Homo sapiens: one gene and its partners. The protein of the gene in region 1 interacts with the protein of each later gene in a pairwise test. Each region holds a gene or a part of one and is shown on either strand. Other genes may lie near its edges.

The links. The genes of interacting proteins can lie anywhere in the genome.
Region 2: the proteins of APBB2 (region 1) and SASS6 interact in binary tests that used the Homo sapiens proteins (3 or more experiments, as listed by UniProt).
Region 3: the proteins of APBB2 (region 1) and POLR3F interact in binary tests that used the Homo sapiens proteins (3 or more experiments, as listed by UniProt).
Region 4: the proteins of APBB2 (region 1) and ABHD17C interact in binary tests that used the Homo sapiens proteins (3 or more experiments, as listed by UniProt).

The regions. Positions count from the first base shown.
Region 1 is NC_000004.12:41,012,043-41,015,542, forward strand, and holds part of APBB2 (amyloid beta precursor protein binding family B member 2), read right to left. Parts: intron 2,357-3,500; coding exon 1,541-2,356; intron 1-1,540. UniProt on the Homo sapiens protein: Plays a role in the maintenance of lens transparency, and may also play a role in muscle cell strength. Involved in hippocampal neurite branching and neuromuscular junction formation, as a result plays a role in spatial memory functioning.
Region 2 is NC_000001.11:100,105,431-100,108,930, reverse strand, and holds part of SASS6 (spindle assembly abnormal protein 6 homolog), read left to right. Parts: intron 1-926; coding exon 927-1,121; intron 1,122-1,213; coding exon 1,214-1,303; intron 1,304-1,377; coding exon 1,378-1,557; intron 1,558-1,937; coding exon 1,938-2,019; intron 2,020-3,027; coding exon 3,028-3,164; intron 3,165-3,500.
Region 3 is NC_000020.11:18,480,890-18,484,389, reverse strand, and holds part of POLR3F (DNA-directed RNA polymerase III subunit RPC6), read right to left. Parts: intron 2,772-3,500; coding exon 2,580-2,771; intron 910-2,579; coding exon 832-909; 3' UTR 1-831. UniProt on the Homo sapiens protein: DNA-dependent RNA polymerase catalyzes the transcription of DNA into RNA using the four ribonucleoside triphosphates as substrates.
Region 4 is NC_000015.10:80,698,310-80,701,809, reverse strand, and holds part of ABHD17C (alpha/beta hydrolase domain-containing protein 17C), read right to left. Parts: intron 1-3,500. UniProt on the Homo sapiens protein: Hydrolyzes fatty acids from S-acylated cysteine residues in proteins. Has depalmitoylating activity towards NRAS and DLG4/PSD95.

The DNA of each region.
Region 1 (3,500 bases):
TGGAGGAGGAGAGATGGGGTCTTACTGGTCTTGAACTTGTGGGCTCAGGTGATCCTCTTGCCTCAGCCTCCCAAAGTGCTGGGATTACAGGCATGAGCCACTGTGCCTGAACAAAACTTTAGGTTAGTTTAAAACTTAACTACAACAGAACCGGCTATACCAGGAAGAGCAGCAGAAAGGGTGCCATGACCAGAGGGAGACAGCAAGGTGTCAGTAAACGCCAAACACAGGAAGTAGAGCTTGGCTGAAAGATGTGCAAGGAGTCTTTCATGTATTAATAGATTCAAACTCCAGCAGGTGACAATGTCTATCAGCTTCAGGATATGAATTCTCTAAATGGGTAAAAAGGATAGAGAGCTGTGAACTCAGGGACATTACTGAACATAATTATGATTCCAATAATGTGCAGGGCCAGACAGTTATGAGATGAAATGGCCTCATCTCAACCTCCCTACTGCCACATTCCACAGTAGTATGCATCATTGAAAGTACTGGGATTTTTAAAGGGCACTTCAAAAACGCTACTTTTTTTTTCTTCTTAAACAAGTTAATGTCTTAACTCCTCTTTTCCTTATCTTTAGTCCTTGTAATTTATCTACCTTATCGATTGTAAAAATGTGATTTCCTTCCCTGGTGGTTCTATCTATTTTCTTTGTTATATCTATATTAACACAGCCCTGGGACCCACTAGGGGAACTGCTGGACTACTTTTAAAAAATTAGCCTTTCTGAGTGCTTGTTTACGCTGAATTCAGATACAATAAGGTTCTCCACATTTTTCAATCTTAGAATCAGTATAGTGGGAGCTATAAGAAAATGATATTTAAAGTAGCTGACTTTTAGGATCCTGTTCATTTCTGTCACCATTTTAACACCTCCGACAAATCCAAAATATTACAAATATAGACAAAAGTCCAGAAAGACTGGTCTCAATTAGACTAGTTAAAAGTCTAAACTTCTGAATATATTTTTCAAGAAATACGATTTTCCCACTTTTAAATATTACTTAAGGCTAATAAAACACTCCTCAGTAAATGTCAAAAAGAGAAATGCCTTTAATGAACAGATGGCTAATGTTTTAACTTTTTATGCGCTTCACCATAAATAAGTTATTTTGAGGACTTTAAAATAGTTCTCTTAATTGGGTTATATCCTTCCCCCAACAACTTTGTTTCTTTTATTATTTTGCTTACCAAAACCCAGTATTTCTAGATAGCATATAGAAATGATCTACCTATGCACTGGAAGTGTAATTTCTAAATATATGATATTTTACTGTACTTAACACCAAGGATCTGTTTATTTTACAAAAATGCTTCCCAGAACAAACAACTTTATGCACGATCCAAAATGAAACTGACCTAAAATATGGTTGAGGAATGCAGTAATATTTTGCAAATAAATTGCCCAATTTTACCGCAAGAGGCTCACGTTCCTCTCTGCATAATGGACATTTTTGGTCAGTCTAGAGATTTACTCCAATAGTTGAAAAGATAAAAAAAAAAAAGTGCCAGCTGAGGCTACGCCTTCCCCAGGGGTACCTGTTTCATCCGGGGAGCTGGGTGAGGCACTGTCTTGGGACAACGTTGTCCAGCTGGACTCCTCATCGCTCGGTGCCAGGTTCTGGATCCGGTGCAGTGCACAGTCGGTTTTGGCCCCTGTTTTCGGATGATCCTTCTTGGTTTCTGGGCTGGATGACACTGTGGCTACTTGGCCGTCTTCAGGGCTGGACTGGGGTCTGTTTGGTTTCTGCAGCAGCAAATCGCCATTCCCAATGATGGTGGAGGCCTGGCCCTGGACTGGCTGGGATTTCTCTTCCGCAGTCCCATGGTGATTGCCTCGGTTCTGCTCTAGTTCTCTGGCTGAGGTTTCCAGATCTGCATAGTAATTTAGGAAGCTCTTAGTTCTCCTGGGCTGGGAGGGTAAAATCTCACAGCTCGAGGAATCCTGTGGGTGGGGCTCTTTACCCTCTAACTTCTCAGAAGTTATGTTGATGACTGCAGTGGGGCTCAGGTTTTTGTTGGGGTCCTGCTGCCCTTGCTCTGCAGCCTTACGGAGCTGGTTCTCCCCATTTTTCACCAGCTTGATGTTGGCAGAGCCATTTCCCAGCAGGGGCTGTGCAGCTGGATCCGAGAGGCCCATGGCCGCCTGGATGTTAGTTAGTGCATATTTTTTCCTGCATTTGGGAGGTGTGCTGTTCTTGGTTTCTGTGTGTTTTATTTCAGCGTTCAACAGTTCATTGTGGGAGGATCGGAGGTTAAGGGTGTTTGGTGGTGTGGCTGGGCTGTTCCGATTTGTGACGTCTGTAGTTCCGCTGCTGGCCATAAACACTGCCAAGGTGTCAACACCTGAGTCAGCTGGGGAAAAAAAAAGTCATTAGACACCTGCCATGATTAAACTACTTAGTATACAGTGTGAGTAAATATTTTTATATAGAAAACTAAAAGAAGAAATGCTTCCACTGCACATACATTCTCATAGAATGGACCCATTTTCCTCTTTATTTCACCATTTGTTCCTATATTAAACAGGAGCAAATAAAGGGCTTAACGTGGATAACCAAAAGCCAATTTATAGAAAAGCTAAGAAGTCTGAGGACCTAAATTTTACTTAAAATAAAAAAGCATTTCTCTTTGAATTCACATAAAAGCATTTTCTTCTGGTGGCTGGTCTTCATTTTTTACAAGCTTGAAAAATCATCCCCTTTCCAAATATTCCCACTACATTTTTATTCTTTGGTTCCTTCAGGCAACAACAAAAAATTGCTCAAGATTCCTCTGGGGCTTCAGCTTTCTTAATTAACCTGAAAGGTCATTGTTCAATGATGCTCCATACATCCAAGGTAATTTTTCTCAACCACGTTTAGAAACTGTGTTCTGAATGCCTGGAAAACTAACCCTCCATTAGAGTTTGCTAATGTCTTGGTGAACATTTTTGACCTGGGCTTACTGTTTGTACTAAACTGAAATTTTGAAGAAATGGCTTAATTTCTGAAGAACACGTACACACGCACACAAAACTATTACTGTAGCATTGAGCCCTTGGCTACAGACAACATGTTAGAGCTCCCAGAGGAGTCTGAATATATTCCACTGAATTAAAATACAGACTCAGCTGTTTGCAGTCATCACATGCCTCTGCAGAACTCCTAGGAAACTATCTGGCAACCGCATTTATCTCAAATATTGTTTGCGCCGTTAGTGATTTATTCTATATGTCTCTCGCTGGGAAGAAAGAAAGGTTTCTTAGACTAGAAGGGAATAAAATTCATCAGCAAGAATTCCTAAGGTTTCAGATTTCTCAATCTATGAGGAGTGACTTCTTTCTTATCTGATCCTTTTGCCCTCCACAGAGACTTTGGTGATCTCTACCTCAGCAGCAGATGAACCAAAGCACAGCTCCTGAAATTCCTGAAATTATATTCTGACAATTCCCTCTTCCTCCCCCAGGCAAAACAGGGATCTTTGCAGGAGAGAAGGGCAATAATTTCCTTGTTTGGGA
Region 2 (3,500 bases), on another chromosome or scaffold:
TGTCCTAAAAATAACAATTGCTACCATTTATTGAGTTTTACTGTGTGCCAGCCAAAATGCTAGGCAATTTACGTAAGGATTTTTATGAAGGTTAAATGAAATAATTTATTAAGTATTTGTTATTTCTGTTTTACAAATGAGGGAACTGAGATTTAATTTAGGGAGTTTCAGTAATTACCAAGATCACACAGTAGAAGAGCCAGGATTTGAATTTTGTTTGATACTAAAGTTTGTGCTCCTAAAACCACTATAGTCACAATACTGTATAATTATTTTTGGAAACTTTGGTTAAGAACTAAAACTATCTAGGAATATTGTATCCTGGGCTTTCATATACCAGCAGCATTTGGGTTGATATTAGCTGATTGGGAAGAGATCTATTGTAGATTTTTTAAAAATCTATTTTTAATGAACAATTATTGTTTATTTTGCTTGAAAGAGTGAACAGAGAGATCTGGAAATGTTAACATTTATTGACATAGAAAGATATTTGTAATACGTGAAGAAGGTAGATTATAAACTGCAGAGTATCAACCTTTAAAAAACAATCTGTACATGTAAGCAACAAAGAAAAATGTTAAGTCTACATTGTGGCGGCTCTCACCCGTGGTTACCCTTGGAATCAGTTGTGGAGACATCAGAAAATTATTGTTAAAAGTTTTAAAGTTACTGTAATTTATTCATAAATTAGAATTATTTTCCCTTGATATGATTGAATCAGATAGTAGAATATTTTACAATTATATTCCAGATATATGCTACTATACCATTAGAAAGACATTTATGCTTTTAAAAAAAAATCTGTACTAAAACTTTAAAATTATTAAAGACTTTTTTTTAATATGTTAGACATCTTAATTATAAATAACCAGATGAGGCAGCTTCCTTTTTTCATAATGCTTAATTTCTTTCTTTTCCCATTCTAGGAGCTACAGCGGACTAAGCAAGAAGTCCTCTCTTTGCGAAGAGAGAATTCTACACTAGATGTTGAATGCCACGAGAAAGAAAAGCACGTTAATCAGCTACAAACAAAAGTGGCAGTTTTAGAACAGGAAATCAAGGATAAGGACCAGCTTGTTTTAAGAACAAAAGAGGCATTTGATACAATCCAGGAACAAAAGGTCTACTTTTAAATTTTTCTCAGAAATTGATAATCATATTTATAAGTAAACACAAATGCCCTAATTATTCATGTTTTTAAAAAATATATCAGGTGGTTTTAGAAGAAAATGGTGAGAAAAATCAAGTACAACTAGGAAAGCTTGAAGCTACAATAAAATCATTATCTGCAGAACTTCTGAAGGTTTGTTTTAAAAATTTTATAGACTAGTATTTCATTAAATTACATAGAAATATACATATGAAGCTCTTTTATAGGCAAATGAAATTATCAAGAAGTTACAAGGGGATCTGAAAACTTTAATGGGTAAGTTGAAATTGAAGAATACAGTTACTATTCAGCAAGAAAAACTCTTGGCTGAGAAGGAGGAAAAATTACAAAAGGAACAAAAGGAATTACAAGATGTTGGACAGTCTCTTCGAATTAAAGAGCAAGAGGTAGTTAATATTTTAAATTTTTATGTTGTAACTAAATTTTTTCCTCGTTTTAAAAATTTATGCTTTGTTACATTAACAAATGGCTTTGGTCTTGTTTTTTTTTTTAACAAAAGAACATGACTAGATTGAGTAGATGGTAATAACCTGTTTCAGTTTGGAAAGTTAGTTATCATGATTCAGATACCTTGATTGCTCATGTATGTCTATGTTTGTATACACATGTAAATATTTTATTACATAATTGAGCTAATTCCTTTATTCTCATTTAATAATAGTAGTAGTAACCATTTATGTAATTATTTAGTTAATAATAATACATTCTTCAGTTTTTATTTAACCTTTATTTTGCTTGACTTATTGTGATGATTGATATATTTCAGGTATGCAAATTACAAGAACAATTAGAAGCTACAGTTAAAAAACTTGAAGAAAGCAAACAACTTCTAAAAAATAATGAAAAGTGTAAGTATGTTACGTGTTAATGTAAATGAGGTTTGTAGTTTTATTCTTTTATTTTTTTGAGACACGGTCTCACTCTGTCACCGAGGCTGGAGTGCAGTGGCATGATCTCAGCTCACTGCAGCCTCCACCACTTTGGTTCAAGTTATCCTCCCGCCTCAGCCCCCCAAGTAGCTGGGACTAAGGTGTGCACCACCACACTCAGCTAATTTTGTGGGTTTTTTTTGTAGAGACGAGATTTTATCATGTTGCCCAGGCTGGTCTTGAACTCCTGAGCTCAAGTGATCCACCCGCCTTGGCCTCCCAGATTGCTGCGTTTAGGTTTACAGGTGTTAGCCATCGTGCTCGGCTGTAGTTTTATTCTTAACCTGAAAATTTTATTCGAATTCATAAAAGTAGACATTGGCCAATATATAAGTAATTTCTGCTTTAAATATACTGTCTTAATGCCTTTTCTATAATAAATTTATATCATCTGCCCAGTAAAAGAGTTATCATCTTTATAAAGAAAACCATATCCCATAGGTCAGTAACCCACAATTAAAACTGTTGAAAATGTTGACTGTAATTTATTGTTTAAATTCTTCATTATTCCTTTTTTTAATAGCTGTGTTTACCTAATAATAACAATATGAATTGTTTGAAAACAAAACATAAAAATAAGATTTTAACTAACATTTTCTCAGTTTATACTACTGGGTATCATACATAAGATTGTGAATTTTAAGTAAACTGTAAGATATTCTAGAAGTGAAATCTTTCAAAGAGTTGCTTGACTAGCAGAAATATGTGCTTCGGAAAGTAATACAATAAGGAGTCCTATGTGGCAGCTTCTAAAATAAGAAACTTTAATGACAAAAATTTAGGTGAACCTATATTGCTCTCCTGTGATGTCAGGTAGTTGTAAAAACTTATAATTTAAAAATCTTAATATAATTTTTAAATGTTTAAGATGATTAGAAAAATAAACAGTCAATATTCTTTACCTTGCTTCTTGTTCTTTTATTTAAGTAATCACGTGGTTAAATAAAGAACTAAATGAAAATCAGCTAGTGAGAAAGCAAGATGTATTGGGACCTTCTACTACTCCGCCTGCACATTCCAGCAGCAACACAATCAGAAGTGGAATTTCTCCTAACCTGAATGTGGTAAGATTTAAAACAAGATGTGAGTGATCTTAGTGAATTTCCTGAAACAAAAGTATTTCCAGATTGTTAGGAAGTTTCCATGATTTAAGGTGCTGATACCAATACAAAGTGGAGTCCTACAATTGCACTGAAATAGAGTTTAAGTTGCCCCTGGAAGTGGAACAAAGGCACACTTGCTCTGAACAGAGGCTGAGTTTCAAGAGCACATTTCTTTTTTTTGTTTTGTTTTGTTTTTTTTTTGAGATGGAGTCTCGCTCTGTCGCTCAGGCTGGAGTGCAGTGGCGCGATCTCGGCTCACTGCAAGCTCCGCCTCCCGGGTTCACACCATTCTCCTGC
Region 3 (3,500 bases), on another chromosome or scaffold:
TGGAAATGAGATTTCAACATTAGAATTCTGGGGGCACACAAACATTCAGTCTACTGCAGACATTAAATAAGAATCTAGGGTAAATTCTAACAAAGAATACATTTGAGTTAAAGAGTGAAACATAAGACTTTAAGAAAGAAGGAACAGTGAAAATATTCTTTAGAATGAAAATGATAGTATTTATGTACTGAAAATATGTCCTTGACAGTAGTCATTGGGTTTGAAGTAAGTATGGTAGCATAATCTCCTAAAAGAACATTTCTGATACAAAAAGGAATTAATATTGTGCGGAAAAGGCATGTTCCACTCTCCCCCAGTCATACCCCAAGTTTGCACTCTTTGCTATTCCTGCCTTTAACCCCTTCTAATTTCTTTTCAATGAAACCACTGAGAAAGTAGGAAACAGAAAATGGTGGTAGTGAACCAGATATAAAAAAAAACTTCCAATGAAGAACTTAATAAATAACTTTAAAAAGAACATTTTTATACTCTAGCCATTATCATAGTACTTGGTAAATACGGGTATGTTGGCATCTTTTTCCTTGACCCATCAGAAGTCTTGAAAGATGTGGTCCTCCGGAGTTTCAAAGTGTTTTATTTATTGAAGAATGAATTTCACTACTAACCTTATTTCTTTCATATTCTACTGGCTATTTTACCAATATAAATTTAGTCTTCATAAATAAAAAAAATATGTTTTCATAGCAGCAAGTCTACGTCCATTATTGTGAAGTTTGCTTTCAAGGAGATTTCGTGTTCCATCATGAATTAAATTATCTGCTCCCTAAGTAACTTCATTTGCAAAATGTCAATAAAGTTCATAGCTCTCTATTAAAATTCGAGCCACTCTGTCATGTAAATACAGTTAGATGGTGAAATCTCACCACCTTCGTGGCAGTCATCAAAAACCTTTAAAAAAGAAAAAAAAATTATATTCAAATTAAAGTTTTAAAATATCTAAGACCCAACCACTTATTTAAAGCAAGATTAAAAACAAAACTTTCAAACTGAAAGGGACTAGGACTGTACTTAAGAACATATTATAGCCGGACGCAGTGGCTCACACCTGTAATCCCAGCACTTTGGGAGGCCGAGGTGGGTGGTCAAGACCATCCTGGCTAACATGGTGAAACCCCGTCTCTACTAAGAATACAAAAATTAGCTGAGCGTGGTGGCAGGCACCTGTAATCCCAGCTACTCGGGAGGCTGAGGCAGGAGAATTGCTTGAACCTGGGAGGCAGAGGTTGTAGTGAGCCAAGATCGTGCCACTGCACTCCAGCCTGGGCGACAGCAAGACTCCATCTCGGGGGGCGAGGGGGGAGCGGGAAGAACATACTATAATAGGGCCTGCTTTGTGATCATCAAGTTAGGAGTAGTAGAGAGGCTTTTTTTACTGTGGCATTAAGATGACCATGCTCACCTGTCTGCTGGGCAAAAGGCTATCACCAGGTAACACAGGAATATGGGCAGGGAGACCTATACATATGAATGACTTAATTTTGATTAACCAAATGTTTCATGTTTAGCTACCTTTTTGTGAAGGGTGCAAAACAGAATTCCTAATATGTTAGCCTTTTGTCTAGGGACTGAAACCAAGGCATAGAGAGCTTAGGCATATAGACAAAGGTTGGTATAATGAAATAAAACACACACAGGCTCATCTATAAATGCCATGAGGACTGGGACAGTGTCTCTTGCTTTCTCTTGTATCCTTAGTGCCTAGAGCATAGAGTTGGCACTTACAATATTTGGGAATGAATGAAGGAGGAGTGCTGGGGCATGCTGCAGGGGAAAGACATGATCTCTGGGTTTGAATCCCGGTTACTTCTAAGCTGTATGCCCCTATGTCTTCCTAAGCCTAAGCTCCCTCACTTTTAAGGGGAAATAACACCACTAGCTTCAAGAATGTAAGGAGGATTAAATGAGACCGCCTATGGAAATCATCAAGGACATATCTGGCCCAAGGTAGGTTCTCAACAAATCTCATTTTCTGCCCTATTTAGGTGAAATGATTAGCCCTCATCAAAAAGTGTCCATTTCAAGGCCAAGAGCAGAAAACGTAAATATCCTTAATGTGGTTGTTCCAAGAAAGAATGTAAAGCAGGGGGCCAGGTACAGGGGCACATGCCTGTAATCTCAGCACTTTGGGAGGCTGAGGGGATCACCTGAGGTCAGGAGTTCGAGACCAGCCTGGCCAACATGGTGAAACCCCGTCTCCACTAAAAATAAAAAAAATTAGCTGGGCATGGTGGTGGGTGCCTATAATCTCAGGTACTCAGGTGGCTGAGGCAGGAGAGCTGCTTGAACCCGGGAGTTGGAGGTTGCAATGAGTCAAGATTGTGCCACTGCACTCCAGCCTCGGTGATAGAGTGAGACTCCGTCTCAAAAAAAAAAAAAAAAAAAAAAGTAAAGGAATGATGTGTTCATTAAAGGTCTGTTCATCAAGGTTTCATGGAGGTTTGAATAGCTCTTGGTCAACCCTAAGAGTCTGAGAAAACTGGGCTGTGCTTGCTCTGTTTCTTAATGTGGCACTTGCACCCGTGGGCAGTCAAGTGTAAAGTGAAGCCACTTTAACTCACCGGGCAGAGTCCACAGGGTGCCCGGACCAAACCTGTGGGAGGGATGATTGGATTGACTGCCCTGTACAGTTTCATGTGTCCATCTACACTGCCAACTGTGCCTTCTTTTGCAGCAATAATCGTCATCTCCACTTTTCCATCATAAATGAGTGTATTCAGGATGGTTTCAATGTCTTCCATGGATAACTCTACCTAAAAAAGGGATACATCAGAAAGGACACAAGTAGGATAGGGAGACATCCACTTGGAGGGTGTTAAAAACAGTAAAGGGTTGCTGGGCGCAGTGGCTCACGCCTGTAATCCCAGCACTTTGGGAAGCCGAGGCAGGTGGATCACTTGAGGTCAGGAGTTCGAGACCAGCCTGGCCAACATGGCAAAACCCTGTCTCTACTAAAAATACAATTAGCTGGGTATGGTGGCAGGCACTTGTAATCCCACCTACTCGGGAGGCTGAGGCAGGAGAATGGCTTGAACCCGGGAGACGGAAGTTGCAGTGAGCTGAGATCGCACTACTGTACTCCAGCCTGGGCAACAAGAGCCAAACTCCATCTCAAATAAATAAATAAAACAGTAAAGGGTCATAATTCTGCTGTGAAATGGGAGAAACATTATGCTGGGGTGGAGTAATTTAAAGCACAAAGAGGAGGAACAATAGGCCAAGTTAGCACAAACCACTGAGGTGCCAGGGACAGAACTCTAAGCTCATGCTGAGTTTGACACTTTCTGGTATCTTTACTTCCTAAGTAAAATCGAGAAATCTTATAAAAAATAACATTTCTTTAGCAGGAATTTATTGGAGATTTATAAAATGCTTGAGCAGAAAGGCACTTTAGACATCAAATAGTCCAAGTTCCTAGTTTTTATGAGAAATCTGAGGCCCAGGAAATTAAAGTGACATGTCCAAAATGGCCACTTTGATTT
Region 4 (3,500 bases), on another chromosome or scaffold:
AGTTACATTCTTCCTGTTCACATACTGGCTGCCTTGAATTGCAAGCCAACATTCTATTTCCTTTGTAGAAATATCATTGTGCTTTCCCCTTATGTCAAACAGTATTCATAACATTTGTTTTTTTTTTTTTTGAGATGGAGTCTCGCTCTGTCGCCCAGGCTGGAGTGCAGTGGCATAATCTTGGCTCACTGCAACCTCTGCCTCCCGGGTTCAAGCCATTCTCATGCCTCGGCCTCTTGAGTAGGTGGGATTATAGGTGCCTGCCACCACGACCAGCTAATTTGTGTATTTTTAGTAGAGATGGGGTTTCACCATGTTGGCCAGGCTAGTCTCAAACTCCTGACCTCAAATGATCCGCCCGTCTCAGCCTCCCAAAGTGCTGGGATTACAGCTGTGAGCCACCGCGGCCGACATATTTCTGTTTTTCTGTTCCCTAATCAGTCAAACTCAAGCAGAAACTCTAAGCTTTCTTCCCTTAGTGGCATCATAGTATTCCCTCTGAGAACACTGAGAACAAAGAAGTTAGGTTATTAACTTCAACATGCCCAGGAAAGTAACTTGCTACTGGAGGAGAATTCCACCCTGAGACTGCTGGCTGTGAACACCATTCACAACCAACAGAAGGTGTTTTTCAAGGGTCCCACGACCTGAGAGGATGCCACTACAGCTTTGCTGTGACATGGATTTTCCAATTATGGATCCTGTGAATCACCGACACAAAAGTTATAAAACAGCAAATCATAGTTACGTATTCAAAATGCCTCTGAAATCTATCCATCCTTTTACAACAAAAAGAAACAGCTTGGGATTAACGATACTTCAAGAGTACGTAGTACACGGTCTGGCACAAGCAGAGCATAAATAAATGTGTGTTTAACAGTTTGGGGTTTTTTGTTTGTTTTGTTTTTTGAGACAGGATCTCACTCTGTTGCCCAGGCTAGAGAGCAGTGGCGCAATCACAGCTCACTGCAGTCTCAAACTTTGGGGCTCAGACGATCCTCCCACCTCAGCCTCCTGGGTAGCTGGAACTACAGGCACACACCACCACACCTGGCTACTTTTAAAAATTTTTTGTAGAGATGGGGGTCCCAACTATGTTGCCCAGGCTGGTCTTGAACTCCTGGGCTCAAGTGATCCTCCTGCCTAGGCCTCCCAAATTGCTGGGTTTACAGGTATGAGCCGCCACACCCAGCCTATGTTTAATGGTTTACTGGTCAAATGAAGGAATAAATGAAATATTAAGTCTTTTGTAATTTGCCTTTTGTACTAAAGGCACTGAAGAGTCTTATTTATCTTCTTCCCTCTGCATCTGCTTTCTCTGACTGTATCAACGTTTCTCTGCCCACATTACCAAACGCCTCTCTCCTCCACAGCTTTTGTCACCAGCATCAAAAAGAAGCATCAAAGACGACTTCTGTGGATGGCATCAGCAGACACCTAAGTTACAAATGTCCAAACAGGAGAGTCCCACTCTCCTGTTCCTCCAGATTAAAATATTTCAGCTAAAATACTCTGCCTCCTTTACACCTCATTCTTCGGGCTATTTGCTTGTTTGGGTTTATAGTTTCAAATCAGTCTGATTCACTGTCTCTTGAGTCATGGTGCCACTTGTGCACACACAGTCTAAAACTGTTCAGCCCTAAGAGGATCCCCTGGAAGGATGTGTGTTGAGGAGGCTGAATCTGCCTACTCCCACCTTAACCAATAGGCAGCCATTCCTGCACAGATTAATCACTTTACTTCCCCAACTCAAGTGACAACAATACACTCCAATAAGGTGACCCTGATTTTCAGTGTCTTTTCCACAGATATGTCTAAGTGATTTCAATTCATTCCCTCACTTGTTTGTATTCACAACATACTTATATTTCTTACCAGTAATGCAAACGTAAAACAAGTTTTGATCTTGGGGCTCTCCATCATGCTCAATGAGCTCTCCTCATTGTTCATGCCACTCTTCCTGGCTCCTTCAAACCCTGCCTCTCCGCTACACTCTTTTCAGTAACTTTTCAAGAGTTTAAAATAATCATCTATTGGCCAAACGGCAACAACCACCTTTCTTACCAAATCTACTTCCTCCTGAAACCCTTACTCTGGATTACGTGCCCACCTTAATACTCATCATCTGGGGGGATTCACTGTCTTTATCCATGCATGAGGGGTCTGCACACTGGTAGTATTTACATCTGTTTCAAGGGCTGGACAGCTCACTCTAGCATGCGCAGGAGCTGGCACAAATAGGTAATGGATAAAAGATGTAGAGACATACAAAGGATGGGTTAGTATTGTTCTTCTCTTCAATACAGACATTTCAGTGTCACAAGAACACCAATACAATGAATACAAAGTGGATGAGGCCTCAAGCCAATACATCTGGCCCTTTTTTTTTTGTCTATGGTTGTACCCATGGATATTAAACCCCGAAGATAAAATAAGATCCAAGTACTTGTAAGAGTCCAACTTAGGAAAAATTAACTTTACCCCACTTATTTATGGGGCGCCCATTATGTGCAATTCGTTCAACAAATACCAATGACTACCTATTATTTTAAGACATTTTGCCAACTGTCAGGAATAGAGAAGACATAGTGTCCCTGCCCTCAGAGATCTTCCAATTTAGTGGAGATACAGTTAAATAACAGATACAGCAACACTGTGATAACTCAAGCAAAGGGGCTGAGTACCAGGTGCACAGGGAACACAAAGGGTCTCCTAATCCAATTAAGATCCAGTCAGGATCCATTGTTCCTAGCACAGGAGAAGGGCAGATACAAAAGACGATGTGAGCAGAAGAGTGGGGCAAAGTCCTGAGTGTGGGGCTTTGGGGCCTGCAGGGCACTGCACCTTACAGTCCTCCTGGGGGAATAATCTAAGTACAGAGATGAAGATGACTCAGAACAAGGCAAGCTCTCCAATCAGTGTCCTGGGGAGTGTGGTTAACTAGGAGGGCAGGAAAGATAAAGATTCCCAAAGAAGACATGGGGGATGGCTGGTGGAAAACAGAGTCTGACCCAGTAACAGAAGAATGGACACATGGGATGGAAGGCATTCCTGCCATGGCACTGACATGAATTAAGCTGTAAAAGAAGAGAGAATAGCATAAGAACTTGCTCCAGGCAAGTAAGAGCAGAAGAACCATACTGAACAGCAAGAGGAAAGTGGTTGAGGGGCTGATTGGCTTCAGAATTAGGTAACTCTTATGTCAGCAGAATAACCAAGACACACAAATGCACCTCCTGAAGAATCTGATAAATATGCTTACCGTGGCAATGGTGCCCTCGCAAGAGTACTAAACTGGTAGTCAAGAGACCTACTGCTGATTTGCCGCCAGTCTATCCTCCTGTCAGATGAGCTGGGTGAACGTGTGCAGTGTCCATACATGAGTTGGGAAATAAATTTAGCAATTCACAACCATCTTTTTTTTTCTTTTTTATAAAAGTGAAATAGGCCAGGCGCGGTGGCTCACGCCTGTAATCCCAGCACTTTGGGAGTCCCAGGTG